Linked DNA regions of Homo sapiens. The protein of the gene in region 2 interacts with the protein of the main gene of each other region in a pairwise test. Each region holds a gene or a part of one and is shown on either strand. Other genes may lie near its edges.

Region 1 (16,714 bases), on a different chromosome or scaffold from region 2:
CCATGATTGCGCTGCCACACTCTAGCCTGGGTGACAGAGTGAGACCCTGCCTAAATAAATAAATAAATAAGGCCAGGTGCAGTGGCTTATGCCTGTAATCCCAGCACTTTGGGAGGTCCAGCACTTTGGGAGGGTGGATCACGAGGTCAGGAGTTCAAAACCAGCCTGGCCAACATGGTGAAAGCCCATCTCTACTAAAAATATAAAAATTAGTTAGGGTGGTGGTGGGCACCTGTAATCCCAGCTACTTGGGAGGCTGAGGCAGGAGAATTGCTTGAACCTGGGAGGCAGAGGTTGCAGTGAGCCGAGATTGCCACTGCACTTCAACCTGGGCAACAAAGTGAGACTCTGTCTCAAAAATAAATAAATAAATAGAAAAAGCCAGGCTCTTGCTCAGTCACCCAGGCCAAGTGCACAGCTCACTGCAGTCTTAAACTCCTGGGCTCAGACAATCCACCCACCTTGGCCTCCCAAAGTGCTGGGATTACAGGCATGAGCCACTGTGCCTGACCCAGAGACCAGTCTTATTTGATTATTATATCAACCTGGCAAGGAAGGAGTGCAGCTAAAACTATTACATACATTTTACATATTAGAAATCTAAGGCTTATAAAAATTACATGTTTCTCTCAAGGCCACAGAGCAGGTGTGTGGTGGGGAGGGATCCAGACCTGGACTTTCCACCTTTTAGTCTCATCTTCTCCCCACTGCCCTTTCTGTCCACCTCTCTCTTCCTTCTGCACAGCAAAAGGCCTTTTAGAGCATAAAACCCCAAAAATGCATCAATCTCGATGGAATTAAGAGTTTTGATGTACTATTCTTGAGTCAAATTAAGCCCATTCTATCACCCAGGAAGAGCATAAGAGCTCTAAAATCACTGGTGGCGTAATTCCTAGGAGCACAGATGCTTCTATTCCATGAAGCCAGGAATAGCGCAGGTGATTGCCTCCTTCCTGCCAGAGTCCTTGGCAATGGCATGTTTTTTAAGCTCTTTGGTGTCTACGAGGCAGGAAAAATAGAAATACAGAAAAAGTGTATTCAGACAGTAAAGCATGAACAGATGACCAGCAGGAAAAAGTGATTATCCATCCACTGGTTTCTATCTTCCCAATTAAGGAAGAGTCAAACTGAAAAGACACAGTAAGTAAGACTAATAGGCAAATGAAGCCCAAGAGAGACAGACAAAAACAAAGCAAGTTTTGAGTGGCTTCTACTAAGCTCTCATCCCCGGTAAGAATTCTATCAGAGGGTTGTTGTTAATTAACATGCAGAAGGGATTAGTAGCATTCCTGGCAAAGGCCAGGGACATTCTAGTAGAATGGGGATGGTCTTCAAAGAGGAAAAGAGAAAATATTTTTTAAATTATGTAATTAAAGTTATGCAGGCTTTACCACTATTTCCAAAAAGGAGTAGAATGGATTATTCAACAGATGTTTGGGGAGCACTACACAGTAGTAGTAGAAATTGCAACAGACGGTGCAGTTTTGTTAAGAAAACGTCATATCCAAATTGTGAAAATGCTGGTAACTATTAAGCAACGGTTACACTGAACACATAATAAAATGTTTAAAGAATCAAACAACCATGTCCCACCAACCAATCCTTGGATTAGAGGAATGTGATTGACATCTCGATTTCAACCAATCCACCTAACTGAGCTCTACATTTACCAAGCACGGATATCTTGCCATGTACTGTATTAAGTTAATTGGTTGGGGATTTTTATTTATTAACTACCTGCCTATGTCACAAAACTGTCTCATAATGAAAACTGAATCCCAGTGCTTTGGGAGGCCAAGGTGGGAGGACCACTTGAGGCCAGGAGTTTGAGACCAGCCTGGGCAACATAGCAAGACCCTGTCTCTACATAAAAAATTTTAAACATTTTAAACATTACCCAGGCATGGTAGTACACACCTGTAGTCCTAGCTAGTCAGAAGGCTGAGGCAGGAAGATTGCTTGAGCCCAGGAGAGTTCAAGGCTACAGTGAGCTATGATCCTACCACTGCACTCCAGTCTGAGCCACAGAGCAAAACCCTGTCTTAAAAAAAGAAAAGAAAAGAAAGGAAAATAAGGAAAGGAAAGGGGAAAGGGAAAGGGGGGGGGGAGGGGAAGGGAAGGGAGAAAGAGAAAGAAAGAAAGAGAGAGAGAGAGAAAGAAAGAAAGAAAGAGAAAAAGAAAAAGAGAGAAAGAAAGGAGGAGGAGGAAGAAGGAAGGAAGGAAGGAAGGAATCTGAAGAAGAAGATCAAACATTTTTTGAGTATTTATTGTGTGCTTGACATGGATGACGACTTTAAACAGGGTTATCTCATTGAATGATCACAACCTCAAGATGGGAATGTTAGTTTTATCCCTGCTTTTAAATGGACAAAATGAGGATCACAGTAATTAAAAAATAAGTAGGAGCTTCTTAGATGGATAGTAGAAAGTGGGAAAGTGGGGGTAACCTTCCAGGCAAAAGGAAAAGAGTAGCAAGAATAAGGAAGATTAAAAGAACCACCAAGATGTTTCAAAACTAATTCATAGCTGGGCACAGTGATGTCCACCTATAGTCCCAGCTACTTGGGCGGCTGAGACGGGAGGATTGCTTGAGCCCAGGAGTGCAGATGAGATCAGGCACTCTGGGTGGTATGGCTGTAGATGAACCCAGGAATTCAAATTCAGCCTGAGCATCATAGCAAGTCCCCATCTCTAAAACAGCAAAACAAAACTCATCCAATATGACTCAAAATGGAGTGCAAGGTATGGCAGGAGAGAGGGCAGTATCAGGGACAGCCTTGTGTGCCAAGCTAAGATGTCACTCTGACTGCAGAGAAGAACTTTTGAAGATTTTTGAACAAAGGGTCAATATTTTCAAATTTGCATCTTAAAAAGTTCCCTCTGGTGTAGTGATGAGTGGTAGAGGGAACCGAAAGCAGAGCATTTAGGACCGTCCCCCGTTTACTCACTCAGCAGCCTCCTGGAAAGCCCCACTATTCAATGAGGCAGGAGGAAGAGGGCAGGAGCAGGTCAGAGAACGGGGGTGGAAGGTGGGGTATGATAATTAAACCAATGTTGCAAATGCTCAGCATGTGTGACCCTTGAGCAGTATTGAGACAGGCAGTACACAATATGCAGCCAGAGATGAGGACCCAAAGTTCGAGAGAAAAAAATGTAGCTATACCTAACACATAGGCTATACCTAACACATAGGCTATACCTAACACGTAGGCTATACCTAACCCATAGGCTATACCTAACACACAGGCTATGCCTAACCCATAGGCTATACCTAACACACAGCCACATGTATGGCTGTACCTAACACATAAAATGCATAAAAGTCTCGACTGATTAATGCCACTTATAGATACCTATCTCAAAGCAAATACACATGCATAAAACTATATATACAAATGTGCTTTTTGCAGAGTTGTTTGTAATAGTGGAAAAGAACAGTTATCCCAAAATGCATGATTTGATTAAATAAATTATGGTAAAGCACACTATGGGATATTATGCCCCAATCGATAGATCTACACAAATCAGCATGGAAATTTATCCATGATAAATGAAAAAAGGATATCACAGAAAAATATTTATATTATGGTTCTAGTTTCAATAGATAGGGTGTTATGGATTGAATTGTTTCCTCTAAGACTTTATATGTGGAAGTCCTAGGCCCCAGTACTTCAGATTGTGACCTTATTTGGTGATACGGTTACTGAAAATGTAATTAGTTAAGATCAGGTCGTTACAAATCTAACATGACTTGTGTTCTTTCACAGGGAAACTTGGGACATGGAGAAAGACACACACAGACACAGGGAAGACACCACGTAGAGATAAAGGCAATGGTGTGGCAGAGGCATCTACAGGTCAAGGAATGGCAAAATGTGTCAGCAAGATGACATTCCACCAGAAGCCAAAGAGAAGCATGAACAGATTCCCCACAGCCCTCAGAAGGACCCAGCCTGCTAGCATCTTAATCTCACACTTCTGGCCTCCAGAACTGAGGGACAATAAATTTCTGTTGTTTAAGCTGCTCTGTTTGTGATACTTTATTACAGTAGCTCTAACAGACTAGGCATTTAAAATACTACATAACAATGTATTACAAATGCAACATGAAAATCACATAGGTCTTCATTCACATTACTGATATAAATACCACCCAGATCAGCATATACAGGAAATCCATTTGTCCATAATTAGCAACCAATATATGTTCACAAAGCTCTGATACTCCCTTGGATGGATTGATGGATGGATGGATGGATGGATGGATGGATGGATGGATGGATTGACGGATGGAAAATAGAGGGATGGATGATGGATGGATGGATGGATGGACAGATGAATGGATTATATAACAATCTATTGTATTAAAAAAAGTCTGGATGGTTGTTCATCAGACTATTGTAAATGGCTCTCTCAGAAGAGGGCTGAGAAGGAGCTTTCACTTTCCACTTTGTCTGTACTATGATATGTTTACACCAAGCATGTGTTACTTTTCTAATAAAAAGTTTGTGAATGATATCTGGGTTTGAGACCTACTGTTGTTGAAATTGAGAGGTATATGAGAATTCTCAGGGAGTTTAGAAATATTTAGTAACAACAACAACAAAAAAGGTAAACCAGGCGGGTGTGTGGCTCACGCCTGTAATCCCAACACTTTGGGAGGCCAAGGCAGGCAGATCACCTGAGGTCAGAAATTCGAGACCAGCCTGGCAAACATGGTGAAACCCCGTATCTACTAAAAATACAAAAATTAGCCAGGCATGGCAGTGCACACCTGTAGTCCCTGCTACTCAGAAGGCTGAGGCAGAAGAATTGTTGGAACCCGGGAGGCAGAGGTTGCAGTGAGCCAAGATTGCGCCACTGCATTTTAGCCTGGGTGACAGAGTAAGACTCCAACTCAAAAAAAAAAAAAAAAAAAAAAACACAACTAAACCAGTCGTGAAATCCCCAGACCACAGGAAGAGAAGCCAATGCAGGATCCAGGGAGGGGGAAGCTATAACATTAGCAGGAAAGACTAAGTAGTGACCTAAAAATAAGAGCGAAGAAGGCTTCCAAAGAGGAAGAGTGAAATGAATTAAAGGCAGCAGATGTCAACTAAAGTAAGGACTGGGAAGGACCTGTACGACCTATAAGGACCCAGCCTGCTGATGCCTCAGTCTCAGACTTTGGCCTCCTGAACTGAGAGGCAATAAACTCTTGTTGTTTAGGCCGCTCTGTTTGTGATACTTTATTACAGCAGCTCTACCAGGTTAGGTATTGACAATAGTAACTACATAGAGCATATTACAGATGCATCAGGCACATTTGTAATTGGCTTGTTTGTCATGTGGAATTTGGAACCAGGATCACTGAGAGTCACCTGAGTGCCTACGCCTGGGCCTCTTCGGTTCCATCTGCTTTGCCTGGAGGGCTCTTCCGGCTCCTTCACAGCCCATCCCACGCTTCACTGAGCACCTGCTCCAATGTCACCCGCTCGGAGAGGCACTCGCCAAACGTGAGCAGAGAAGCACCCCTCGCCGTCACTCCAGTTTTTCTTATAGCTCTTATACACAGGGTATATTGTTTAGCATGTCTATTATCTGTTATCACTTCCCTAAAAGAACGGTTGTGAAAACAGGATTTTGGTCTGTTTTACTCACTGCTGCTGTCAGTGCCCACCACAGAGCCCCCAGAGGGCCTGCAAAATGAAGGGACAAAATCATGTCTGTTGAACAAACTTAGAGAAGCAGAAGTCAAATTGCCAAGGAAGAGTAATATTCTAAGGCGATTTGCTAAGGAAGGGTAATACCCTAAGGCGAGGAAATGAAGGCACTGCAGGAAGACTTCATAGAAAGAGATATGGTCACATCTGAGGATTGGCTGATGGGAGAGGTCCAAGGAAGTATCAGAGCTTTGTGAACAGAGGTTGGTTGTTAATTATGGATTAGTGGATTACTCCTCTGGGAAGACCTTTCCTGCCAAATTTTGTCTTGAATGCTGATCTGGCTGGTATATATATTAATAATGTGAATGAATGAAGACCTATCCAATTTGCTTATTGTATTTGTAGATATTATTGTCAGAATGAAGATTCAAAACTGCCTAGTCAATGGGTCAAAAGACAGGTAAGATGAGGTTTAGCAAAGCTAAATTGGAGGTCCCACCCTTAAGCTGAGAGCCAGATGAAGAAGCCCTGTAGAGAGCCCATTAGCAACATCTCCTAAGGCAATGCACTGGGAATTAAGGCAGTGGCTTGGGAGGTCACAGACGTTTGTCTACACTGAGTTCCACTACCTTCTCTCTGAGTGTCCTTGGACAAAGTTATGAGGCTCCCTGAATTTTATTTTCTCCTCTTTAAATTGGAGACACAGATACCCTACCCTATAGCATCTTTCTGAAGCCAACTGAGAAAATCCATGTAAGAACATGAAAGAGCAGGTGATACAGGGAAAGTGATACAGGAAAGTGGTACAGGGAAAGTGCATGATTATTAGTGGGTATTCCCTACTACTGTTTACTGCAGAATTCCAACATGAATCAAAAGGCTTATGTAACTGCCAAAAAAAACAAGGAAATCAGAGATTCCACCAGTGAAACCATAGTTCTCTGCAACAGGAGGTAAAACATCCACCATGCATCATCAGGTCTGGGCACCACATTTCAAAGACAGACACTAACAAACCAGCCTGTGTACCTGGGAGAGCATGGCTACATAGGTGAAGGTGCTGAGCCATGACACTGTTGAGGATATAGAGGCTGCAGTGTAAGAGTCCTCTCCTAGTGTAGAGGCTGCAGGGTGAGAGCTCTTTCCTAGTGTAGAGGCTGCATGCACTATGCGATAACTTGCATGCTTGCAAGCATGCACACATAAAATGGGTGACTATTCATGTGAGTGTCTTGGAAGCAAGTTTTTCCCTCAACAGGCAATTGGGCTGCACCATCTCTAAGGTTTCTTCCAACACTAAGAAACTCTAGTTCTATAATCATAAATTAGCATAAATTATCTTATTAGCAGCAGTATACATTATATGCCTCCAGTCCTTCAAAGCATTTCTGATGTTTTTACCTCCTTACTCTACCTTCAGCTCTGCCTGACCAAAGTAACCCCCATCCACATTTTCCAAATAATTCACCTCTGAAAAGAAGTTACTTTTCTGGTAAGACACCCATGAAGACTTACCCCAGTTTCTGCAGGTTACACTGTGGATTCTTGGCTTTTTCACATAAAATTGCGACTCCTGAGTCTCCCAAGGCATTCTCCCCCACATAGAGTCTGGTCAGGGAATGGCTGGTGCTCAATACTGATGCAAGATCCTGACAACATGCTGATGTGAGGCAGCAGCTGACCAACCTTCCATAGAGATGGCAGAATGTCAGTCATGTCTCTCACCCACGCTCCACCATGGACAAGGAAGCACCCGTACCTGCCACTGCCTCTACTCCAGTTTACACATGGAAAGGGAGTGGACACAAGCTCTATGTACACTTCTGATTTCCTTTTCCATTTGGTGGAATAACAAGTAAGCATTCTCCAAGCTCCCACCAATACTACATCTTCCCAGCTCCCTACATTCAGCTTTATTGTGGTAAAATACGTGTAAAATAAAATTTACCATTTTAACCATTTTTAAGTGCACAATTAATGGCCTTAAGCACTTCACATTGTTGTGCAACCATCACCACCACCATCTCCAGAACTCCTTTCATCTTGCAGAACTGAAACTCCATAACCATTAAACAATGTCTTCCCACTCTCCGCCCTCCCATTGCCTGCAACCACGTTTCTTCCTGTCTCTATGAATCTGTCTGTTCTAGACACCTCCTATAAGGACAATCAGAGTATTTGCCCTTTCGAGTCTAGCTTATCTTACTTAGCATAATGTCCCCGAGGCTCATCCATGTTGTAGTGTGTACTAGAATTCTTTTTAAAGCTGAATGTACATATATAGCACTTTTCAACACCCTTCATCCGTTGAAGGACGTTTGGTTATTTCCACCTTTTGGCTATTTCTAATAGTGTTGCTATGGACATAGATGTACAAATAACATGTTTGAGTTCCTGCCTTCTGTTTTTTTTAATGCTTCCTCTGTCACCCAGGCGGGAGTACAGTGACGGGATCTTGACTCACTGCAACCCCCGCCTCCCAGGTTCAAAAGATTCTCTTGCCTCCACCCCGAGTAACTGGGATTACAGGCATGCACCACCATGCCTGGCTAATTTTTGTATTTTTAGTAGAGACAAGGTTTTACTATGATGGCCAGGCTAGTCTCGAACTCCCGACCTCCAGTGATCCACCTGCCTCAGCCTCCCAAAATGCTGGGATTACAGGTGTGAGCCACCGCTCCTGGCTGAGTTCCTGCTTTGAACTCTTTTGCAGATATACCCAGCAGTGGAAATGCTGGCTCCAGTAGTAATTCTGTATTTATTTTTTAGGAATTGCTGTGCTGTTTTCCATAGTGGCTGCATCATTTACATTCCCACCAGCAACACACAATGGCTTCCATTTCTCCGCACCCACACCAATACTTGTTGTTTTCTAGTTTTCTTGCTTTTGTTTGATAATAGCCATCCTAATGGGTGAGAAATGGCCCTTCCATTTTTAAGTGGTTTTTTCTCTCCTTCAAAATGCAAGTCTCCCAGAAGCACTCAGGGAAGGGCTGCATACAACATCGAGGGTCTGCATTGCTTTAGCACCATTTTTCTTATACAATATGAGGACCCAGGGCTTGTCATGAAGTTCTAAAACTCCTCTAAAGCAATGCATTACACTGATTTTTTCTTTTTGTCAGCTAGGCAGTAGGCACCCTAAAGGCAGACATCTTCTTTTTGTTATTATTTATGCTCCTTGTCAGGGTTGAGTGTGTGGCTTTCCCCACGACAAACACTCACTGACCGCAATGCTAGACACCCCAAGACAAGCACACGCAGTCACCCGAGCCGCCAAGGCCATTCTCACTCAAACCCCAGCCCACCGGGCCTCACTGAAGCCAGAGTGCGCAGCACGCCTCGCTGGCAGAACTTCCTTAGGGGAACGGGCTCGACTCACCAGAGCTTCTTCAGATTGCACAACAGGTGCTTCAGTCCCACACACAGAAGTCTGATTCCGAAGTCACCGAGGGCGTTGTCACTCAGGTCCAGCTCCACCAGCTTCTGGTTGCTGCTGAGGACCAAGGAGATGTCGAAGCAGCACTCATGCGAGAGGCCACAGCGCCCCAACCTTCATGCCAAGAACAGAGGCAGAAAGCATCAGAACACACCTGACCAGAGAGCTCCAGAACAGAGGAAGCATCAGGACACACCTGATCAGGAAGCTCCGGAATAGAGAAAGCATCAGAACACATCTGATCAGAGAGCTCCGGAATACAGAAAGCATCAGAACACACCTGACCAGAGAGCTCCGGAATAGAGAAAGCATCAGAACACATCTGACCAGAGAGCTCCAGAATAGAGAAAGCATCAGGACACACCTGACAAGAGAGCTCTGGAATAGAGAAAGCATCAGGACACACCTGACCAGAGAGCTCTGGAATAGAGAATGCATCAGGACACACCTGACCAGAGAGCTCCGGAATAGAGAAAGCATCAGGACACACCTGACCAGAGAGCTCCGGAATAGAGAAAGCATCAGGACACACCTGACCAGAGAGCTCTGGAATAGAGAAAGCATCAGGACACACCTGACCAGAGAGCTCTGGAATAGAGAAAGCATCAGAATACACCTGACCAGAGAGCTCCGGAATACAGCACAAGGCACATTGGGAGGTCAGCCCCCAGTCTCCCCAGTCACAGCAGAGGGATCACCTGTCAGTGAACTCCCGGCCGTAAACAGTGCCGGGTGCATTGAGATCACCCCCCAGACATGTGAATGGTGCGCTCCTGGTTTGTAAGTGAAGCGGGCGGTGTGGGCCTGTGCACCCACCTCCTTCCCTCGTGTTCCTAACCATTGACGTGCCCGCAGTCGGCACTGCCCTCGCCAGTGCTGCACTCAGCTATTTCTTGTCTTCACCAACATTGTCACCCCATTGTGTTTGACGATTTCATCCCAGCCCTCCATCTATATTGAAAGGAAAAGCAGCTCTGATTCTTTTTCTTTTCTTTTCTTTTCTTTTTTTAAAGACAGGGTCTCACTTTGTTGCACAGGCTGGAGTGCACTGGCGAGATCATAGCTCACTGCCACCTCGAACTCCTGGGCTCAAGGGATCCACCTGCCTCAGCCTCCCAAGTGGCTGCAAATACAGGCATGTGCTACCATGCTTAGCCATTTTATTTTATTTATATTTTATTTTTATTATTATTATTATCTTCTAAAGACAAGGTCTCACCAGCTTGCTCAGGCTGGTTTTGAACTCCTGGGCTCAGGTGATCTGCCCACCTCAGCCTCTCAAAGTGCTGGGATTCCACATCCCGCTGCAGCTCTGATTCTTGATTAGTTTCCCCGTCACACACATGCACACAAACACACACGCACATCACTACCACCGTCACCACCACCACCAGCAACAAAAACTATACTTTATCCCTGTCATGGGGGCAAGAACAACATTCTAGCTTCTTTCCAGGGCAATAGTTCATAGGTCCTGGAGCCTGTTAGACCACCTTCCTTTCTGTCCCTATCCTTACACCAACTTCAAGCAAATGGACAAATGGATCTCTACTTCTCTGCGAAGCATCTCACTGTCCCCTACCCTTCCCTGTTTGTGTCTGCCTCTCCAGAATCATACAGGGGCAATGGCAGTGGGGAGAGAATTTGGGCATGAAGTTGGAGAAATAAGGTTAAATGTCCCAAACAACCAGTCTCCATGGCACTACGATTTGAAATTTACCAAAAGAGCAAAGATGAAGAGTGTGATCTATATACATAATGGAATACTGCTCAGCCATAGAAAAGAATGAAGTCACATCTTTGAAGCCACACAGATGGAACTGGAGGCCATTACCTTAAGTGAAACAACTCAGAAACAGAGTCAAATACCACACGTTCTCACTTACAAGTGGGAGCTAAACAAAGGGTAACATCCATAGAGCATGGAATGATAGACACTAGAGCCTCAGAAGGGTGGGAGGGTGGGAGCCAGGTGAGGGCTGGAAAATTATTTATTGGGTACAATGTTCACTATTTGGGTAAGAGTTACACTAAGGCCGGGCACGGTGGCTCACGCCTGTAATCCCAGCACTTTGGGAGGCCGAGGCGGGTGGATCACGAGGTCAGGAGTTTGAGACCAGCCTAGCCAATACGGTGAAACCTTGTCCCTACTAAAAATACAAAAATCAGCTGGGCGTGGTGGCCCATGCCTGTAATCCCAACTACTCGAAGAATTGCTTGAACCCAGGAGGTGGATGTTGCAGTGAGCCGAGATCACTCCACTGTACTCCAGCCTGGGCAACACGGCGAGAGTCCATCTCAAAAAAAAAGGGGTAGTTACAGTAAAAGCCCAGACACTACCACTGTGCAGTAACATATCCATGAAACAAAGCTGCTCTTGCGCCCCCTACATCTACAAAAATAAATACATAAAGTAAAAAATAAAGAGCAGAGCAGACAGAAAGCATTTAAGCCACCGAACAGCACAATCGAATCAGAATTTTCTAAAGGACCATCTTACTTTTGTGCAGAGAATGGTCGGGTGAGGGAAAAAGGCAGACACAGGGAGACCAAAGAGCCAACATTCATTCAGTGCGTGCTTTTGACCACTGATGGGTACTAAGATGTCTGTCCAGGCGTGGCAAAGATGACAGCAAGACAAACAAACGCAAACCCCATCCCCGGGGAGCTGATGGTCTAGGAGGTCACTGCGTGTCCAGGCAAGTGGTGACAGTTGCTGGACCTGGGCTGGTGGGGTGAGGACGAGGAAAAGTGGAAAACAGCTCGGGTAGGAGGAAAAATTGATAAGACTGGTGACAAGGTGAGTGTGTTGAGCCGGAGAGGGAGGTAGCAAAATGTCCTAGAGTGGCGGACTTTAACACTTGCTGTGCAGCTCCTCAAAAATGCAGACGCCTGCATGCGTCCACAGAGCAGGGAATGAAACAGAGCTAGTGAGGCGGCCCAGGCACCAGCGCGGTGGGGCGTGTGAATCTGATTCATGGTGTGGGAGAAAGCAAGCACATTTTTTATTATTATTATTATTATTATTATTTTGAAATGGAATCTCGCTCTGTCACCCAGGCTGGAGTGCAATGGCACGATCTCGGCTCACTGCCATCTCCGCCTCCCGGGTACACACAGTTCTCCTGCCTCAGCCTCCCGAGTAGCTGGGACTACAGGTGTGAGCAAGCACATTATTAATAAAGTCACAGGAGATTCCCTGTGACATTTCAACCCATACAAAGCATTCTGACCAGGCTGGGCAACGTGATGAGACCACATCTCTACAAAAAAAATACAAAAATTAGCCAGCATGGTGGTGCATGCCTGTAGTCCCAGCTACTCGGGGGAGCTGAGGTGGGAGGATTGCTTGAGCCTGGGAGGTCGAGGCTGCAGTAAGCTGTGATCACACACTCCAGCCTGGGTGACAGAGAGAGGTCCTGTCTCAAAGAAAAAAAAAAAAAGTATTTTCATAGTTTTTAGGTGAGGTTGCCATTGTTGTAAATGGCAAATTCTCCAACTCTCATCTATGAACATGGCCCATGAGGAAATGGAATATATCGAGCATCATGGTTGTTTCAAGAAATGACTTTTTTTTTAGTTCCTCATTCATTCTTCCCCACACAAAACTTCCCCAGCTGGCCTCCAACCCATTCTACCTTCTCACTTGTTCTGGGCTGAACTGTGCCCCCCCAAAAATTTACATGTTGAAGCCCTAATCCTCAAGACCTCATAATGTGGCTGTTTTGGGAAATGGGGTCTTTAAAGGAGTGACTAGATTAACATTAGGTCTTGTGTAGTCATGCCTGACTGTGCCTAATCCATCAGGACTGCTGTCCCTGTAAGAAGAGGAGACTAGGCCACTCTTCCCCCCAAGGCAAGATGGCATCAGTACACAGGGAGAAGGGGGCATCTACAAACCAAGGAGGGCGGCCTCAGAAGAAACCAACCCTGCTGACACCTTGATCTTAGACTTTCGGCCTCAGAACTGCAAGAAAATGAATTTTTGTTGTTGAAGCCATTCAGTCTGTGGCACTTTGTTACAGCAGAAACCACACCACCGGCCGGGTGCGGTGGCTCATGCCTGTAATCCCAGCATTTTGGGAGGCCGAGGCGGGCGGATCACCTGAGGTCAGGACTTCGAGACTAGCCTGGACAACATGATGAAACCCCATCTCTACTAAAAATACAAAAAATTAGCTGGGTATGGTGGTGGGTGCCTGTAATCCCAGCTACTCAGGAGGCTGAGGCAGGAGAATCACTTGAACCCAGGAGGCAGAGATTGCAGTGAGCCGAGGTCACGGCATTGCACTCCAGCCTGGGCAATAAGAGCAAAACTCTGCCTCAAAAAAAGAAAAAAAGAAAAAGAAAAGAAAGAAACCACACCAGCAACCTGGTCCTGAAGATCTTTCTCCAGTCTGTTTCTCTCTCTCTCTCTCATATGAACTTGCACTCACACAGATCACATGCACGGGGACTCACCACAATCTCCGAATGTTACAGCCAGGATGCTGGAGCGTTTCACACAACACTCTCATCCCTGGGTCCCCCAGAGAATTGTCACTGAGGTCCAATTCAGTTAGACTCTGGCTGGTGCTCAGAACTGAAAAGAGGCCCCGGCAAAAACTGGAAGTGAGGTGGCTGTTCACCAATCTAGGAATTAGAAGGAAGACAGACAGAAAAGAAATCAGCCTCGAATAATAACTAACTGGAGCTGGGGGCCGGGGTGCCTGGCACCAGTTCAGAGAAATGCCTTCCGGGGATTAAGAAATGGGTCACGAAACCAAAAATTGTTCCCAGAGAAATGAAGAGGGCTGGATGAGCCTTGGTAAAAGCAGTTCTGCCTCCTCTCGGACGGAGAGCATGAGCCTGTGACTGTGGCGGACTGTGGCACCCTACAGCCTGCTCCCCAGTGTCCTCCTCTCGCCCTTACCAGTCCACTGTCCCAACATGGCCCTGAACGTTCTGTGCTGGGTGATCAGAGGGCAGTCCTCACTCCTGGCTACACAACAGCATCAGGAGTGCTCACAAAAATCCTCAGGCCAGGCTGGGCATGGTGGCTCACACCTGTAATCCCAGCACTTTGGGAGGCCGAGGCGGGCAGATCACCTGAGGTCAGGAGTTCAAGATCAGCCTGGCCAACATGGTGAAACCCTCTCTCTACTAAAAATACAAAAATTAATTGGGTGTGGTGGCACGAGCCTGTCATCCCAGCTATTAGGGAGGCTGAGGCAGGAGAATCACTTGAACCTGGGAGGTGGAAGTTGCAGTGAGCCAAGATCATGCCACAGCACTCCAGCCTGGGCAACAGAGCAAGACTTCATCTCAAAAAAAAAAAAAAGAAAAAGAAAATCGCAAGCCCAGGCCACATCCATGGAAATAAAATCAGAAGCTCTGAGGTGGAACTAGATGAATTTTTTAAATTTTTTTTCAGATGAAACCCAAGCTGGAATGCAGTGCCATGATCATAGCTCACTGCAGCCTCAAACTCCTGGGCTCAAGCAATCCTCTTGCCTCAGCCTCCCGAGTAGCTGAGGTTACAGGCACGAGTCACTGTGTCCAGCTATATGGATCTTTTTTATTTAAAAAAAGCCAGGTGGCTCCAACATGCAGTCACATTTTTGCTTTTGTTTTTCTGTAGAGAGGTGCTCTCACTTTGCTGCTCAGGTAGGACTTGAATTCCTGGCTTCAAGCAATCCCCCCATCTTGGCCTCCCAAAACCTAGGATTACAGGCAAGAGCCACTGCACCCACACATGCAGTCACCTTTGAATCACCTGTAGCTCTCATTCAAATGCAAAGTCTAGCTCTCTAGGTCTAAGATTGGGTCCACAATCCTGCATTTCTAATAGATGCTCAGGCTTCTGGTTCTCAGAAGGGACTGGAACATACAAAGCAAGCTCCTGCCCTCAGAGTAAGGCAGCTGCCATCTAGAAAGATGGGTGCTGAGCCCCCTACCAGGGCTCCAGTCAGAGTCTGTCCTCAGAGTAAGGCAGGTGCCATCTAGAGGGATGGGTGCTGAGCCCCCTACCAGGGCTCCCGTCAGAGTCTGTCCTCAGAGTAAGGCAGGTGCCATCTAGAGGGATGGGTGCTGAGCCCCCTACCAGGGTTCCAGTCAGAGTCTGTCCTGAGGAAGGAAGGTGCTATCTAGAGAAATGGGTGCTGAGCCTCCTACCGGGGCTTCAGTGAGAGTCTGTCCTCAGAGGAAGGAAGGTGCTATCTAGAGAAATGGGTGCTGAGCCCCCTGCCAGGGCTCCAATCAGAGTCTGTCCTCAGAGGAAGGAAGGTGCTATCTAGAGAAATGGTTGCTGAGCCTCCTACCGGGGCTTCAGTGAGAGTCTGTCCTCAGAGTAAGGCAGGTGCCATCTAGAGGGATGGGTGCTGAGCCCCCTGCCAGGGCTCCAATCAGAGTCTGTCCTCAGAGGAAGGAAGGTGCTATCTAGAGAAATGGGTGCTGAGCCTCCTACCGGGGCTTCAGTGAGAGTCTGTCCTCAGAGGAAGGAAGGTGCTATCTAGAGAAATGGGTGCTGAGCCCCCTGCCAGGGCTCCAATCAGAGTCTGTCCTCAGAGGAAGGAAGGTGCTATCTAGAGAAATGGGTGCTGAGCCTCCTACCGGGGCTTCAGTGAGAGTCTGTCCTCAGAGTAAGGCAGGTGCCATCTAGAGGGATGGGTGCTGAGCCCCCTACCAGGGCTCCAGTCAGAATCTGTCCTCAGAGGAAGGAAGGTGCTATCTAGAGAAATGGGTGCTGAGCCTCCTACCGGGGCTTCAGTGAGAGTGTGCAAACCTTCCTCACAGATGTGTGATCTTCATAAGGTCTCCCTGCCCTCTCCACCTTCCACCTCACTCTTAATGAGTAGTTCTGCCTACTTTTCTCTCTGTCTTACTCTTCTTCTCCCATTTCTATGGTCTGAATGTTTGTGTGCCCCAAAATCCATACGCTGAAATCCTAACCCTCAACATGACGTATCAGGCGATGGGGCCTTTGAGGTGTGGTTAAGTTATGAGGGTGGAGCCCTCAGGAGTGGGATTGCTGTCCTTAGGAAAGGGACCCCAGAGAGCTGCCTTGCCTCTTCACCATGTAAGGACACAGTGAGAAGGCACCATCGACCAGGGAACAGGCCCTCACCAAACACCAGATCTGCCAGAGCCTGGATCATGGACTTCCCAGCCTCCAGAACCGTAAGGTGAACCTTCCTTTTGCTTATAAGCCAACCAGCCTGCAGTGTTTTGTTATGGCAACCTGATGAATGAAGACAACTGTCTTTTTTCCAGTCACTCGGAACTGTTTGCTGCCGTAGAAACCGTACCCTGCTTTCCCACACCTGCCCTCTCTCTCAACACCGTAAGCCCCCAGCCTGGCTGCCCCTTTCCTTCTCTCACTCTCTCACTGCCCATCCTCCGGAAGCTGGCTGAGCGGGGACACCCACCCGTGCCCCGCTGGTGAACAGGTTCGTCCCCTTGTGCTTTGGATACTCTGCAAGTTTCCTTGTCAGAGCCCATGACCCCCTCCCCGACATCTGCACTTGTTTCCGGACTGTCCCACAGCCAGACCTCAAGTCCCTGTGACCAGGACCTGGGTCTTCACCACCACTGCGGCCCTGTGGGCAGTCAGTCCTTCATGGCCAAACCATGACTAGGAAGGTGGTCCTGG
Region 2 (16,902 bases):
TTTCATGTAATGTGCACTTCTGATCTGTGACAATTGATATAAAAATGGCTTATTATTTACTATAGTAACCTGAGTTGTCTGGGTTACTATAAAACCCAGGGTTTTATAGTAACTATAGTTTTATAGTTTTATACTAACTATAGTAAAACAAAAAGGGTTAAATAAAATTTTACATTTAATTGTTCTCTGCTTATTTGAATATCAGTTATGACTATTATGTGCAGAAATTCTGTTCTTTATAATATTTGATTAACAAGAATAGCCTATTTTCAGTTCCTATTCAGTATCTAATATATGTCTAACTATTAAAATCAGAGTGGGCCAGGCATGATGGCTCAATCCTGTAATCCTAGCACTTTGGGAGGCAAAGGCAGGATGATTATTTCAGCCCAGGAGTTCGAGACCAGCCTGGATAACATTTCAAGACTCCATCTCTACAAAACATCTTAAAATTAGCTGCATGTGGTGGCACACACCTGTAGTCCTATCTACTCAGGAGGCTGAAGTGGGAGAATCACTTGAGCCCAGAAGGTTGAGGTTGCATTGAGCTATGTTCATGCCACTGCACTCCAGCCTGGGTGACAGAGTGAGACCCTGTCTCAAAAATAAAATCAAGGTGGAATGCTATCTAGTTCAAATTTGAATAGTTTTTAAAAAATTCTGTCTCTGGCTGGGCATGGTGGCTCATGTCTGTAATCTCAGCACTTTGAGAGGACGAGGCTGCAGGATTGCTTGAGTCCAGGAGTTTGTGACCAGCCTGGACAACATAGCAAGTCCCCAGCTCTACAAAAAAAATAAATAAGTAAATAAATTCTGTCTTTGCTTTTATCTTAGTGGTTCAAGTACTCTGAAAATAAAATGACTTCATTTGAAGTCTCAAAAAGCTTTGTAAAATTTCCCTTATATATAGATTACTGGAAGCAATCTCTCACTTTCCTGTTCTTACATATTACTTTACTTTGAATGTATTTCATGGCACTTATGATTTTGTAGCATATATGTATTATTTTGTACCCATAGCCTATCTTTCCTGCTAGACTGTCAGAAGGAACTTAAAGACAACTGCACAATTCTAAAGAATTGGACTTTGCATCCCCATAGTTCATGGTACAATGTTTTCACTTTTTTTTTGAGATGGAGTCTCACTCTGTCACCAGGCTAGAGTACAGTGGCGTGATTTTGGCTCACTGCAACCTCCACCTCCTGGGTTCAAGCAATTCTCCTGCCTCGGCCTCCTGAGTAGCTGGGACGACAGGCATGCACTACCACGCCCAGCTAATTTTTGTATTTTTAGTAGAGATGGGGTTTCACCATGTTGGTCAGGATGATCTTGATCTCTTGACCTCGTGATCCACCCACCTCTCCCTCCCAAAGTGCTGGGATTGCAGGCGTGAGCCACCGTGCCCGGCCAGTGTTTTTACTCTTAAAGCCACACTCAGTGAATACGTATTGAAAGAATGAATTCATGTTGACATGAACATATTTGTCATGCTCTTATGTTTAGTATGTTTAATTGAGACTACTTCTGCATTTTCAGAATATTCAGGTTCCCAGGGAAGCATGGTACTGGTTGAGGCTTGAAGAGGAGACTGAAGAAGATGAAGAAGAAAAAGAACAGGATGAAGATGAATATAAGAGTGAAGATTTAAGCGTATGCTTTGCACCATTTCCTTCATAGGGTGTCTCAGCCTTGGCAACATTAGCACTTTGAGTTGTGGTAATCCGTTGTTGTGGAGAGCTGTCCTGTGCATTGCAAGATGTTTAGCAGCATCTCTGGCCCCTGCCCACCAGATACCAGTTGCACTTTTGCTTATGACAACCAAAACCCTCTCCAGACATTGCTAAATGTCCCCGAGGGGAAAAATAACCCCTGGTTGAGAGGTACTGCATTGCAGGATTACTTTACTAACCCCAAATCAAAACTTACATATAATTTTTCCCTTTAGCTTCCATTTGTCCTCTCATCTCAGCTTCAGTTTGGATGATGAATTAGCAACAAATGTAAATTATTTTAATTTATACCTTATTTCCTGCAAAACTTCTACAAGTCATTCTAATGTGTACTTTTTTCTCCTACTTATAAACAACAAAAAAACACAATCAAAAGAAAATGGAGGCCGGGCATGGTGGCTCACACCTGTAATCCAAACACTTTGGGAGACCAAAACTGGTGGATCACTTGAGGTCAGGAGTTTAAGACCAGCCTGGCCAACATGGTAGTGTATTTTAGTCTCTACTAAAAATACAAAAATTAGCCAGGTGTGGGGCACCCAATAATCCTAGCTACTCAGGAGGCTGAGGTAGGAGGATCACGTGAGCCCGGGAGGCAGAGGTTGCGGTGAGCCAAGATCACGCCACTGCACTCCAGCCTAGGTGATAGACCGAGACCCTGTCTCACAAAAAAAAAAAAAAAAGGAAATGGAGATTATTCAAGAAAGGAAAACACACTCGTATGCTTACTTGAGTATAATAATTTTGTGGAAAACATTCACAATTTGAAAAACCTATATTCCACTTAATTGGGAGACCATTGATGAGAACTTTTATGGCAAAAGGAGGCCATATTCACCTTCACCTTATCTGGGGGAGGTAAATGCCTTGAAAGTAGAAAAAGCCTTTAAAGGATGCCAATTTTAATAAGGCCACCCAAAAACTATTTTCTCAATGTTAACAAGCAGTCTCCATTGTGTCTGGCAGACTTGTGGAAATCTCAGGGTGGCTAATGAACTGTAACACATTCGAATATATCAGTTCTGTCCTTGACATTTCTAATAACTATTCCAGAGTATAGCAGAATATTTACAGCCTTGAGCTAATTCGGCACGATCTAAGAGCCAGAAAACCAAGGTTCTGTTCAATGTAAAGTATTAATAATGTGCTTGTATCCTATAGGTACTGGAAAAATTACAAATATTGACTAGTTATTTAAGAGAAGAACATCTATATTGTATTTGGTGTGGAACAGCCTATGAAGGTAAGAAAATTACTTTATGCTTTTTAAAAATAGATGAATGCTCTCCAATTTTTAGTTAAAGTCATTTCCCACTGACAATGGAAATTTCTTATTCCATTCAAATGGCAGTATGGGACCAATTTCTTAAATAGTGGATATAGAAATAATTGAGGCTTTATTAAAATTGCATTTAACTTTTCAGAAACTGAATGTGTGGAAGTGAATTTTTCAGTGTTTTGTTTCAAAAGAAACAATTTTAGAATAACCTGAGAATGATGAATGTTTTGTGCTTTATTTTTAAAGATTCTTTCTTTGGCTACAGATATTTGAAAGAATTTATATTAAATTTTAGAGCTAATTTTTATATACTTAGATAGAATATTGCCCCTAAACCGTAAAAATCAGATATGTTGAAATCCATTCCTTTTTTTTTCCATTGTAAGGATAGAAATGGTTTACACTTACCAGGTGTCTTACAGAGCCAAGTGTTTCTCCTTCTAACACCTTTGCCCAAGCTACCTTTGCTAACTTGTATTTAAGAACTTTGTACTTGAGAGTGAAGCATTTTTGGTTATTGTTGTTTTTATCTTTTCTGGTTTAGCAGAATAAGTAGAAAACATCAGATCAAAAAATGCATGTTATGTTGAAATAATTTTCTAGTTTACTGTAGAAGTTGTATTAATCTTTCATTTCCCTCACATAACTTACAGATAAAGAAGACCTATCTTCAAATTGTCCAGGACCAACTTCTGCAGATCATGACTAAGATTATTCCCAATAAAGTGGAAACTTGAAAAATGTTATTACTTCCTAGGGATAGACAATTTAGCAGTTGGAAATCTCAAATTTTTTATGCCAGTAAAGAAAGGGGGACTTTATATAATGTTTTGTTCTTTTTGTACTTTAGAATATGAATGTTCATTGACTTGAAAAAAATAATGCAATGGCATTTCAGAACACAAGTATCACAGAGATGGACAGTTACAATTTATTGCTATATTGTGATACGTGAGGGGTTTAAGGACACCAACAGGTAACTTCTTATTCCCCTCTTCACTTTGGAACAAATTGAGAAATAAGAAATGGGAGTCAGAGGAAGAGAAAAATATCCACTTTATCAGTGAATAAACTGATACAGAGAAGAAGGTTGACTTTTTCTCCAGTCAGAGACTGTAATATTTCTCCCTGATTGGAGAGAACAGCGGGTCTCTGCCTTGTTGGGGCAGAGCCCATCTTTGCATTCTGAGACCAGTTAGCTTTCAAGGTCAGGGAAACCACCAGGGGCTGGACCACACATGCTCAGTTCCTTCTTGTATCACCCATGGGATAAGACAGTTCTCTCTTGGGAAGGAATGAATGAGGGTTCAGAGAGCTTTTTCCTACACTTCTTGCTTTGAAGGAGCAAGGAGAAGTTCCCTTCCCTCCATCCAAGCATGAAGAGGAGGGGAAAAGTATTCCCCTCAATAAGGCTGATGTCAGAGGCAATGTTCGACCAGTACTACTAAATTCTAATCCATTTAACTGTGATAATTTCTGGTAAAATCATGAGTTTTCATGACAATGTCTATATCCATTATATGTGATCTGTTGGAAGTTTTGGCTAGAGAAACTTAATTGTGAGGAAATTTAAATATTGTGTGATGCAAGTACTTACTGAATTTGGAAACCCCTTGATAGCATTCCCAGCAAGTGATAGTTCAACCTTTGCTTTTATTCTTCCAGCCACAGAGAACTCACTGCTTTAAAACCATTCCATTACTGGGTAGCTCTGAATTGTTTTCATTGTTTTCTCTTAAACTGAAATCTGCTTCCCTGTAATATTAATGAATACAGCTAAGGACATACCGTGTGGCATACTATGAGAGAGCTCCATCCAGGGTGAGGCATCAAAATCATGAACCTTTTTAAAAGTTCATATGCTCAGGTGTCTCTCCTAGTGATTGATTTTGATTTGTCTTGGCTAAGGTGGTTCCTGGATATCTATATATTTATTTTGAAGTCCCAAGAATGAGTGATAAGCACCTGAGGATAAGAACTAGTACTGAGGTTAAGGATGGAGCACCACCATTCTTTGGATAGAGTTGTGATCACCTGTGTGATTTTATAGCTCACCTGTTAGTTAGATTGAGCAAGAGAACAACCCCTTTTATTAGAAACAGCATACATAAGAAGATTGTAAAAATTAACCTACACTTGCTAGGGTAAGATAATCAGTAGTACAATTTGTATTAATCTCTGACCTAATATGACCTAATTCACTTTTCAAGTTTAACTTGGGGAGCTTTACAAAATAGTAATAAAAGGGTCCCATCCCAAGAGATTCTGATGCCATTAGTCACTGTGACTTGGGCATCACTGCCCTTGATTCTAAAATGCAGCCTACCTTGAGCCACTAATCTAGTTAACTTCTGGGCCTCAGTTCTTCATCCAGAAAACTAATCATTATTTTTATGAATGTAAATATGTGTATATATATAATATTTATATGTTTGGATGCTATTGTTTAATATTTACTTTTTTGTTTTTAAAAAAATTATAAAATTGGCTGAGCGCAGTGGTTCACTCCTGTAATCCCAGCACTTTAGGACGCCAAGGCAGGCAGATCACTTGAAGCCAGGAGTTCAAGACCAACCTGGCCAACATGGTGAAACCCCATCTCTACTAAAAATACAAAAATTAGCTGGGCGTGGTGGCATTCGCCTGTAATCCCAGCTACTCAGAAGGCGGAGGCATGAGAATTGCTTGAACCTGGGAGGCAGATATTGCAGTGAGCTGAGATCATGCTGCTGCACTCCAGCCTGGGTGACAGAGCAAGACCCTGTCTCAAAAAAAAAAATTATATATATATATGTATGTATATATATATATATATAGAGAGAGAGAGAGAGAGAGAGCTATTAATAAAACAGAGGAGTACATTTTACCCTTGCAATTCCAGTCAATACTGTGGTGTCATTTCAGCCAACATACCAACATTCAGTCAAATCCCAAAGCCAAATGGATAATTTCAGATGGAATGGAGTTAGACAGGAACTGGCTTCCCTTTCTCCTGTTACTATGAGGACAACCCACACCTGCTCAGTGGCCTAAAATATTTTAAATATGTTCATGACAATTATGCTGAGAATGCCAGGATAACACTGATGGAACCCATGACTTCACCAGGATTGTGGTCTACATTTACAGGCCTAGTACTAGAACTAGACCGGCTTAGAGAGTGGGAGATATCCCTCTGTTGTCCATCGAAAGATAAAAATACAGGCTTTCAGCCGGGTGCAGTGGTGCATGCCTTTGGTCCCAGCTACTCAGGGGGCTGAGATGGGGAATCCTTTGAGCCCAGAAGTTTGAAACCAGCCTGGGCAACATAGTGAGAGACCTCCATCTTAAGGGAATAAAAAAAAAATCAGACTTTCAATATGAGTAACAAGTTATTTTTAGGCCTTTTATGACTTTATAAATAGGCAATAATGAACACCAAGGGAAGCAAAACACTGAAAAGAATTTTAAAATTTGTTGTAGAACATTAATACGAAATTTGAAACTGCAAAACAATGTAAAATTTAATGTCATGTTGTCATTTACTTTTGTGTATATTGTGCCATGTTTATTTTCAAAGTCCTATCTAGAAATTCTAAAATGTCTAATTTTCTTAATTAAAAATCCAGAATTCTGTAGTTTCTGAAATTCAAAATAAATACTTTAACATACCAAATTGGTTTTTCTAATAAACATTTATTTCAAGTGTTATTTGTTAAACATTTAATTGTTGAGATTTGAAAATGAACATTATTATTTATTAGACACATTTTATAGGCTCATTCAAAATTCTTAACTTTTGAGTTCCTGCTTTCTTCACAGCAGTGCACTCACTACTTTCTGGTATACAAGAAGAACAGCTTGTCCCCACTCTTACAGTGTAATGAAATTAGCAGTATAATGAAGAAAAGTGCTGTGTAGGAATGACTGAGCTCTAAGACAAACTGGTAAGAACAATTAGGTACTAAACAATGGGAGTACTAGGGAGAAGATTCATTTTGAGTGGGAGATGTTGGAACACTTTGGAAATAACACTGAATTTGGGTTCTGAAAGATGGATATAATTTTGATATGCAAAGTTATGAGGAAAGAGTTACTGTATAATCCAGCCATTCTCCTAGGAATATACATCCAAGAGAAATGAAAACAAGTCCACATAAGATTTGTACACAAAAGTTCATAGTAGCATTATTCATGGTAGCCAAAAAGTACAAACAACCCAAATGTCCATCAGCTGATGAATGGATACATAAAATGCGACATATCCATATGATAGAATATTATTTGGCAATAAAAAGGAATGAGATGCTGATTCATGCCACAGCTGGGATGCACCTTGAAAATATACTCAGTGAAAAAGACCACATGTATGATTCCATTTATATGAAATGTCTAGCATGGGCAAATCTATAGAGATGGAGAGTAGATTAGTGGTTACCTAGAGTTGTGAGAAAACAGAGTGAATACTAACGGGCATAGGGTTTCTTTTGGGGGTGAGAAAAATGATAGTTGCACAACTCTGAATATAGTAAACACTACTGAATTGTATACTGTATAGGTGAATTGTATGGCATGTGAATTATATCTCAATAAAGCAGTTATTAAAAAAAAAATGAAGAGAATTTCAGATAGAAACCACAGGAGAGAGCCACTGAGTGCAAAAGCCTGTTGAGGTAAAACTGCAGACCTGCATGGGTGGGGCTTACTCGGGAAACACTGAATATGGGATGCATCATGGAAGCCTCCAGAGGAGCATGGCCTTGCCCAGTGAACTGCAGCCCAGTGAATCTCATTTTAGACTTCTGGCCTCCAGAACAGAAAGAGAATAAATGTGTGTTGTTTTAAACCACCAAGTTTGTGGTAATTTGTTAGTTATAGCAGCCATAAGAAATTAATACAGGTCCAAATCAAATTAACCCCATAAGAGCCACACAGATTTGAGAAGCATTTTATTTGCCTCACAGTTTTGCCTATTATACAGTTTCTAGTTATTTAGAATTTAAGCCAATAATGTCACCATATAACTATCAACTGTGATTCCCTTCATCTATGACTATTTTTAAGAAATGTAAGATTTGGATAAGTCATAATCACAGATCAGAAACTGCAGACATTGAGGCCTGGATGGCCGTTTAGAGAGAAAGAGTTAACATTTCAGTGGAGACCTTTCCTATCTTGTATTTCCTACAGTCTCCTCCTATCTTCAGTGCAGTGTTCTGGCAGCACCTCAAGCTCACTGTCACCAAATGGGATTCAACGTCTTTCCTCCCAAACATGCTCTACCTCACCATGTCGATAGATGTACAGTCGCCCCACTACTGGCTTAAATTCTAAATTACTGAAAACCATGTAACAGGTAAAAGTGTGAGACAAAGTACCCCTCAAATACATGTGGCTCTTGGGGTTCATCTGACTGAGACTTGTATTTACTTGAATGGCATCAGAATCCTGCTACTAACCTTCTAACAAACTTGGAGGTAATCTTTGATGCTTACCTTTCCTTAATCCCCACATCCAATTAGTTGCCAACTCCTCTTGGTTCTGTCCTCTTATTGTTCAGGCCCTCTTAGTCTTTCCACTTCTGACCTTTCAAATATAGTTTCCTCCTGCTCTATTCTAAACATGCTAGTTTCAAAGTATTGGTTGGGCCATACCTTGCTTTAAAGAAATACTCATTTGTCAACTGTGGAGGTTGCTAGGGCACTAACTCACTCTAAAATTTGATAAATATTTATCGCATCTTTCCCATTCAGATTTAGAGAAAGTTCCTTAAAGAAGAATCATAGATGATAAATGCAAGAGGTTTGATAGAACCAGAAAATCACTATTTTACAACCCCTGAAATGAAATAATGGATCCAGGCAACAATTATCAATAGCTGCTAAAACCATCAGGTGAAAGATTGATGAGAAACTTTGTAGTAGTTGGTACCACCAGAACTCATTGATCAATATTAAAATCACTGAAAGTGGAACAATCAGACATCATGTTCCTCCTGAAATGATGTAAGAGAAAGTGTATAGCATCACCTATGGAGTATTCTTGGGGGAAAATAAATGAACCAGGATCAAATCCAGCTTCTAGGTCTAACTGGACACTCTGGGGATACTCTCAGTCAAATCCTGAGTGGAGGAAATTCCACAGGACAAATAAAAGCCGAAAAGAACTAAAACGCAGGGGTAAATTTTACAGAGTAAAGGAGACACATCAACCAAATGCAATGTTGGATCTAGATTTCAACAACCAAGAAAACTGTATTTTTGAGATAGAAACAATACAGACTATTATATGATAATTAAGGAAATCTTGTCAATTTTTTGAGTGTGACAATGATGCTGTGGTTTTGTTAAAAAGATTTATCTGCTAGAGATACATTTTAAAGTACTTACAAGTGCAATGATGTAACACCTGAGATTTACTTTAAAATATTCCAGTAGGGCCGGATATTGTAATCCCAGCAGTTTGGAAGACCAAGGCAGGAGAATCTCTCAAGGCCAGGAGTTTGAGACCAGCCTGGGAAACACAGCAAGACCATATTTCTACAAAAAATTTAAAAATTAGTTGGGTGTGTTGGTGTATGCATGTAGTCCCAGCTATTCAAGCGGCTGAGGCAGGAGGATCACTTGAGCCTAGGAGTTCGAGGTTACAAGGAGCTGTGATCGTACCACTGTACTCTGGCCTGGGTGACAGAGTGAGATCCTGTCTCTTAAAAAAAAAATTACAATTAAATACTTCACCAAAAGAAACAAACAAAAAGTAAGGGGTTAGATGTATTAAGAACGGTAAAGTATTGATATTTGTTGCAGCTGGGTGATGGGTAGAGTTTCATTATTCTATTTTTGTGTATGTTTGAACATAAAGAAATGTATGAATAATATTGAAATTATTCAATATTCCATAATGAAAAGTTAACATGCCAAGAATCTCAAATTATGGTGAACACTCAGTGGGGACTGCATATTGTGAGTTATGTCTCTAGTTAGTTAACAGATAGTAGAGACCTGGAAAAGCTTGTATGTAGCCTTTTAAACATTTCTTCTCAGATACATACATGCATATATATGTATTATATAAAATACATATTCATACACATATGTGCACACACACAGGATGGCTTCATGGACATGCAACCTGTGCAGTTGCACAAGACTGTGCTTAGAAGCACCCCACACCTAATTTTTGAACGAGGGCCGTACAGTTTCATTTTGCCCTTAGTCCCACAAATTATGTAGCTGGCCATACACACACATGCACACATACCACATACCCACATGTATATATGCATATATTGTGTACATATGTATATACATTGAATATATTTAACATAAGTGTTAAGTATGCATGTGAATTTTATGTATGTATTTATGTTAAACATGTACGTATTTAAATAACATGTGGTTTAGTGATAAAAATTCCCTAAAAGGTATGTTTCTAGGGAGGCAATTATATTAAAATGGCTCTCAAAATTTCTGTGTGTGTGTGTGTGTGTGTGCATTTTAATTAGCAAATAAGGTCCCAGGCTCTTGCCCCTGTCCTCCTCTGAGTAAGAGGATACTTTTTACTTTAATTTTGAGGCCAAGAAAATATATACTCACAAATCAAAAGAAGTTGCTAAGAAATGCTATATTCATTTAATAAGAGTAGGAATATATATATCTTTTTTTTTCTTTTTTTTTTTTGAGACTGAGTTTTGCTCTTGTCACCCAGGCTGGAGTGCAATGGCGTGATCTCAGCTCACTGCAACCTCCACCTCCTGGGTTCAAGCGATTCTCCTGCCACGGACTCCCGAGTAGCTGGGATTACAGGCGCCTACCACCACACCCAGCTAATTTTTGTATTTTTAGTAGAGATGGGGTTTCACCATGTTGGCCAGGCTGGTCTCGAACCCCTGACCTCAGGTGATCCACCCGTCTCGGCCTCCCAGAGTGCTGGGATTATAGGCGTGAGCCACCATGCCCAGCCAGAGTAGGAATATTAAAATGAGGTCAGTAAAGATAAGGCTACATTCTCACTAACTGGCCACATCATTTAGTGTTTCTTTTGAATATAGCCTCATTAATCAAAACCAGATATTGTTTTTTTAAAAAAAGATTTCTCTCTACGCAGAACATTTCCAAATCTACAGAAAAGTTCAAAGAATAATACAACAAACACCTGTGTACTGTCATCTAGATTTACCAATTGTACAATGGCTAATATTTTGCCACATGTGTGCCCTCTTTCTCTCTCCATGTTGATTTTTGCTGAACATTGAAAGTTGCAGACATCATGACACACTTGGCCTCTAAATGTTTGTGCATGCATTGCCTAAAAAAACATTTTTGGCTGGGTGCAGTGACTCATGCCTGTAATCTCAACACTTTGGGAGGCCAAGGCAAGTGAATCACCTGAGGTCAGGAGTTCAAAACCAGCTGGGTCAACATGGTGAAATTCCGTCTCTACTAAAAATAGAAAAAATTAACCTGGAGTGGTGGCAGATACCTGTAATCCCAGCTACTCAGGAAGCAGAGGCAGGAGAATCACTTGAACCTGGGAGGCAGAGGTTGCAGTGAGCCGAGATCGTGCCACTGCACTCCAGCCTGGGCGACACAGTGAGACTCTGTCTCAAAACAAACAAACAAACAAAAACAAAATAAAACAAAACAAAAAGACATTTTCTACATATACTATTATCACACCTGAGAAAACAGTTATTTGGCATTGTTATCTAATATGCAGTCTATATTCAAATGTTCTCAATTGTCCCGAAGATATCTTTATAGCTGTTTGCTGGGTTGTTGCTTTCTTTTATTATTATTATTATTTAGATATGATCTCACTCTGTCACCCAGGCTGGAATGCAGTAACATGATCATGGCTCACTGCGGCCTTGACCTCCTAGGCTCAAGTGATCCTCCCACCTCACCCCCCCAAGTAGCTGGGACCACAGATGCACACTACCATGCCCAGCTAATTTTCTGATTTTTTGTAGAGATGAGAACTCACTGTGTTGCCCAGGCTAGTCTCAAAATCCTATGCTCAAGCCATCCTCCCCTTTTGACCTCCCAAAAATGCTGGGATAACAGGCATTAGCTACTGCGTCCAGCTTTTGTCTTTTTAAATATCCAGAATACAATAAAGATTCAAACATTGCATTTGGTCATTGTATCTTACAAGTCTCTCCCCTTTTTTTTTTTTTCATGACACTGACTTTTTGAGAAGCCCAAGTCAATCATCTTATAGAATGACTACATTCAGGATTTGTCTAATAATTTCCTCATGATTAAATTCCAGTTTAACACTTTGTGCAAGAAAACTAAATAGGTAAAATTCTTAAGTCACATCAGGAGGGGCATAATGTTAGGGTGTTCCACCTTGGGTGATGCTAAATTGAATCACTTGGTTATTGTGGTGACCATTGTAAAGGTACATTTTCCCCTGTATAATTGATACCTCTTCTGTAGGATTATATTTAAATCCTTGTAGAAGATCCTATTCCACAATAGCTTTTCATCCAATAGTTTTAGCATCTATTGATGAACGTTACGTGAAAAATCTATGAACTGCTCTTTATGAACACTTTTTAAAGCCTTTATAAAACTATTTTCTCTTACTGTATTTTCACTTTTTGCTTAACCTAAATTTGGCCCTTTTTAAAAATCCTAAAATCATATGGCAGTTTTAGAATGGTAGCTGGTTGCTGCTATAGTTTGCATGTTTGTCCCCCAAAATCTCATGTTGAAATTTGATCCCAGTGTTGGAGGTGGGGCCTGATGGGAGGTGTTTGGGTCATGGGGGAAGACCCCTCATGAATACATTAATGCCGTCCCTGGGGGTGGGGTGTGCTGGGGAGGAGAAGCAAGGAGTTCTCAATCTATTAGTTCCCTCAAGAGCCGGTTATTTAAAAAGAGCCTGGCACCTTCTCCCTCGCTCTCTTGCTTCCTCTCTTGCCATATGATCTCTGCACATCCGGCTCCCCTTCACCTTCCACCATGAGTGGAAGCAGCCGGGGAAGAAGCAGATGCTGGTGCCATGTTTCTTGTACAGCCTGCAGAACTGTAAGTCATATAAATCTCTTTTCCTTATAAATTATCCAGCTTCAAGTATCCATTTAAACCAATAAGAAACAAACTAAAACAATTGCCCTAAGTTGAAATTCACCCTCAGGGTCGTCTTCTAAGATGCAATTTAAATTATCTTCTCTACAGCAATTCAGGACAACAAACTAGCATACCCCATGTTCCTCAAATATATCTTCTCCAGAGCTCATGCCAGACCCCTTGTCCAGACTTCCTGGGTGGTCTCCTCTCTACTCATCTAACACCCTGGCATATAGTTGGAAGGCCCACTGGGCTGTCACTTCTAGCCCTGTGCTCAGCAGAAAGCCATCTTACCCTTCCCGATGGACTATTTTCTGTTTTTAGCTACTGCCTTACAGCACGGTTGTCTTTAAAGTGGTTGTTACAATAGATACAAAATGTATTTAAGATAAAAGGTATAACTATGCAGCAAACACTAGTGGACCTACCATCCAGCTTAAGGAAGTTACCATTACCTTTGAAAGTCCATTTCCCCAATCACATCATTCCCCTCCCTCAAAGATAACCACCATCCAGAATTTAATATTTCTCATTCCCTTCCTTCCCATTATTGTCTCATCACATTTGTTGGGTTTTTTATACAAAATGATTTAGTTTTGCATGCTCTGGAACTTTATATAAATGGAATTATTCTGCATATATTTTCTGAAAACCTGCTTTGTTCGCTTAACATTATGTTTCTGAGAGTTGTATTGTGTTACGTTATTACATTTAGCTGTACTTCAATTGTTTTCAATACTATATAGTACTCCTGTGTGTGAATATAATTTTTTTAATCCATTCTTCTTTTGATGTGCATTATGGTTGTTCCCTGTTCTTTTGGCTATTATAAACAGGGTTTTATGGACATTCTTGTAAGCACGTATGTAGGAATAGAATTGATAGCTATGTGGGTATACATGGATTCAACTTTACTAGATAATGCCAAATTGTTTTCCGAAGTGGTTGTACATCACTTTTTTTTTTTTTTTTAATGAGTACCATATTTCTCCAGCTGGCTTGTAAGCTATGTGAGGCAGAGAACGATCTTACATTTTTTTGGCCTAAAAGCGGTAGAAATTTAATAAATAGATATGAATTGATTGATTCATTAATAGTATAAAAAGAAAATTTGGGGGTGGTTTTTCCATCTTTAGAACAAAGAGATGAGGCTGGGCGCGGTGGCTCATCCCTGTAATCCCAGCACTTTGGGAGGCCGAGGCAGGTGGATTACTTGAGGTCAGGAGTTTGAGACCAGCCTGGCCAACATGGTGAAACCCTGTCTTTATTAAAAACACAAAAATTAGTTGGGTGGGTGGCACATGCCTGTAATCCAGCTACTCAGGAGGCTGAGGCAGGAGAATCACTTGAACCCAAGAGGCAGAAGTTGCAGTGAGCCAAGACTGTGTCATTGCACTCCAGCCTGGGCAACAGAGCGAGACTCTGTCTTTAAAAAAAAAAAAAGAATAAAGAGATGAGCCAGGAAAAAGTAAAATGTAAGAATGTTTTTGAAGCAAAAAGAAGAAAACCTTTCTGTTTCTGCAGAAAGATTAGTAAAAATAGTAAAAAATTAAAGGAAACATTAAAATAAAAGGTAAATATCTATTGATATTCCCTAGCAGATTTTAGATAATTTAAGGAAAACTGCATATCAGAAGCAGGATACTTTTTCAGAAGGGCTCTAACATGTGTGTCGTTCATTTTTCTCTGGGCTTTTCTTCCACACAGTCAAGGTCCTTAGTATTTCAGATGTGTTAGGTCGATCCTCAGGTTTCTTTGAGAGTAATTTCTGTAGAAGAGTTTTCTGCAATGACAGTGAGAGTCAATAGTAAGAAATAAAACATTGAAATAAATAAAATTCTGATGATTTTCAAGTGCTTACTTCTTTTTTATCAAATATATCTGAGATGATGCCATCCCGTAGGTCTGTGAAAAACTGGAAAAAAAAATGATAGGTGTATATTAGGAAATTATTTACTTGGGAGGAAAGACAGAACTAAAGGCTGAGGAATACCTGAAATGTAGGATATTTCCAGATTTTTTGGGAAAGTCTCTTTAGCCAAGAAGCAAGCAGGATTCCCTCTCTCCTACACTACCCCCAATCTAATAACCATCCTTGCATTACGACATGAAGTGTTAAGTGCATCATCTTTACAATCTCCCTTCATGCATTTTGGAACCCTAAGTGATAGGTACTTCTAACTGTTTTACAGAGGATAAGGTTATTGACTCCAGGAAAGTTCCCTTTCCTGAGCTTAAGAGTAGGATATCCAGCTGGGTGCAGTGGCTCACACCTGTAATCCCAACACTCTGGGAGGCCGAGGCGGGTGGATTGCCAGAGGTCAGGAGTTCGAGACCAGCCTGACCAACATGGTGAAACCCCATCTCTACTAAATACAAAAAAATTAACCAGGCATGGTGGTGCACGCCTGTAGTCCCAGTTACTTGGGAGGCTGAGGCAGGAGAATTGCTTGAACCTGGGAGGCAGAAGTTACAGTGAGCCAAGATCGCGCCATTGCACTCCAGCCTGGGCAATAAAAGTGAAACTCTATCTCAAAAAAAAAAAAAAAAAGAGTAGGATATCCACTTGCCTACTGCCTTTAGTGACTCCCCACTGTCTAAGCAAGAAGGTCCACATTTTTTCCTCAAGTTAGCCCAACCTATCTTTCTAGCCTCACCAACCACTACTTCCTTGTAACTTATATACTCCAATACAACTTACACTGCCTGCTGTCCCCAAATACACTCTGTACATTCCCGCCTCCATGCTAGAATCAACTTTTCTGTTTTGGACTATTAGAAGCCAACAGATCCTTCAGAGCCCAGCTTAGATGTCTCCATGAAACCTAAGTCCCTACAGCTGGAAAGATCTCCCTCCCAGCTGCTTCCACAGACTTCATGCCTTCTCCTAAAATGCTTATGGCATTCTCTTATATTATCTTCCCTTTTAGAAAATAAGCTCCTTGAGAACAAGGCTTTATTCATTTATTTATTTAGAGATGGAATGTCACTCTGTCACCCAGGCTGGAGTGCAGTGGTGTGATCTTGGCTCACTGCAACCTCCGCCTCCCAGGTTCAAGCGATTCTCCTGCCTCAGCCCCCTGAGTAGTTGGGATTACAGGTGTGCACCACCACACCCAGCTAATTTTTGTATTTTTAGTAGAGATGAGATTTCACCACGTTGGCCAGGCTGGTCTCGAACACCTGACTTCAAGTGATCTGCCTGCCTTGGCCTCTCAAAGCTGGGATTACAGGGGTGAGCCACCGCGCCCAGCCAAGGCTTGTTTATTTTTGCAACCCTTACAGCACTTAGCACAGTGTCTTACACAAAGCAGTCAATCAATAAAATGTTACTGACTGACAAGTCTTACAAGTCTTATGAGATGTACTACCTTCCAGGGAAGATCAAAGTTTTTGGTCTTTAAGAAAGTGTTTGGTCTCTGCCAAACCTTGAAAGACAGAAAATTCATATTTCATTTGCAGTCAGATACTAATATGCTCAAGCCCATCCTCACGTGAGGGCAAGAACTGTCTGCAGCAGCACTCTGAAGGTGGTAGTCAGTAATTTTTCTTGTTTAATTCTTTCTTTGAGATAATTTTACCTTTGATGTTTCAAAAGCAGTGTCACATACATGAAGAAGTTCAGCAAGAATTAGCCCCAAAGCGTAGAGGTCCACTTCCTTTCCATAGTCTTGCGAAGAAATCTAAAGAGACCAAAATAGATTTACCTTTGTTATGCTCCTTACATAAATATCCAGCCTTCTAAAGCCCAAAAAAGTTATTTGACCAAAACATCTTACACCACAAAACAATGTCTATTTATTAGCAAAATCTGTGGAGTCTGACTGCCTAGGT

The links.
Region 1: the proteins of EIF2AK2 (region 2) and NLRP3 interact in binary tests that used the Homo sapiens proteins (3 or more experiments, as listed by UniProt).

What each region holds. Positions count from the first base shown.
Region 1 is NC_000001.11:247,426,587-247,443,300, reverse strand, and holds part of NLRP3 (NACHT, LRR and PYD domains-containing protein 3), read right to left. Parts: intron 13,717-16,714; coding exon 13,546-13,716; intron 9,199-13,545; coding exon 9,028-9,198; intron 7,332-9,027; coding exon 7,161-7,331; intron 4,021-7,160; exon of another isoform or gene 3,768-4,020; intron 1-3,767. UniProt on the Homo sapiens protein: Sensor component of the NLRP3 inflammasome, which mediates inflammasome activation in response to defects in membrane integrity, leading to secretion of inflammatory cytokines IL1B and IL18 and pyroptosis.
Region 2 is NC_000002.12:37,092,545-37,109,446, forward strand, and holds the end of EIF2AK2 (interferon-induced, double-stranded RNA-activated protein kinase), read right to left. Parts: intron 16,752-16,902; coding exon 16,650-16,751; intron 14,984-16,649; coding exon 14,930-14,983; intron 14,852-14,929; coding exon 14,729-14,851; 3' UTR 6,666-14,728; downstream 1-6,665. Other genes in the region: GPATCH11 (G patch domain-containing protein 11), read left to right, coding at 1,538-1,651, 2,893-2,974, 3,664-3,719.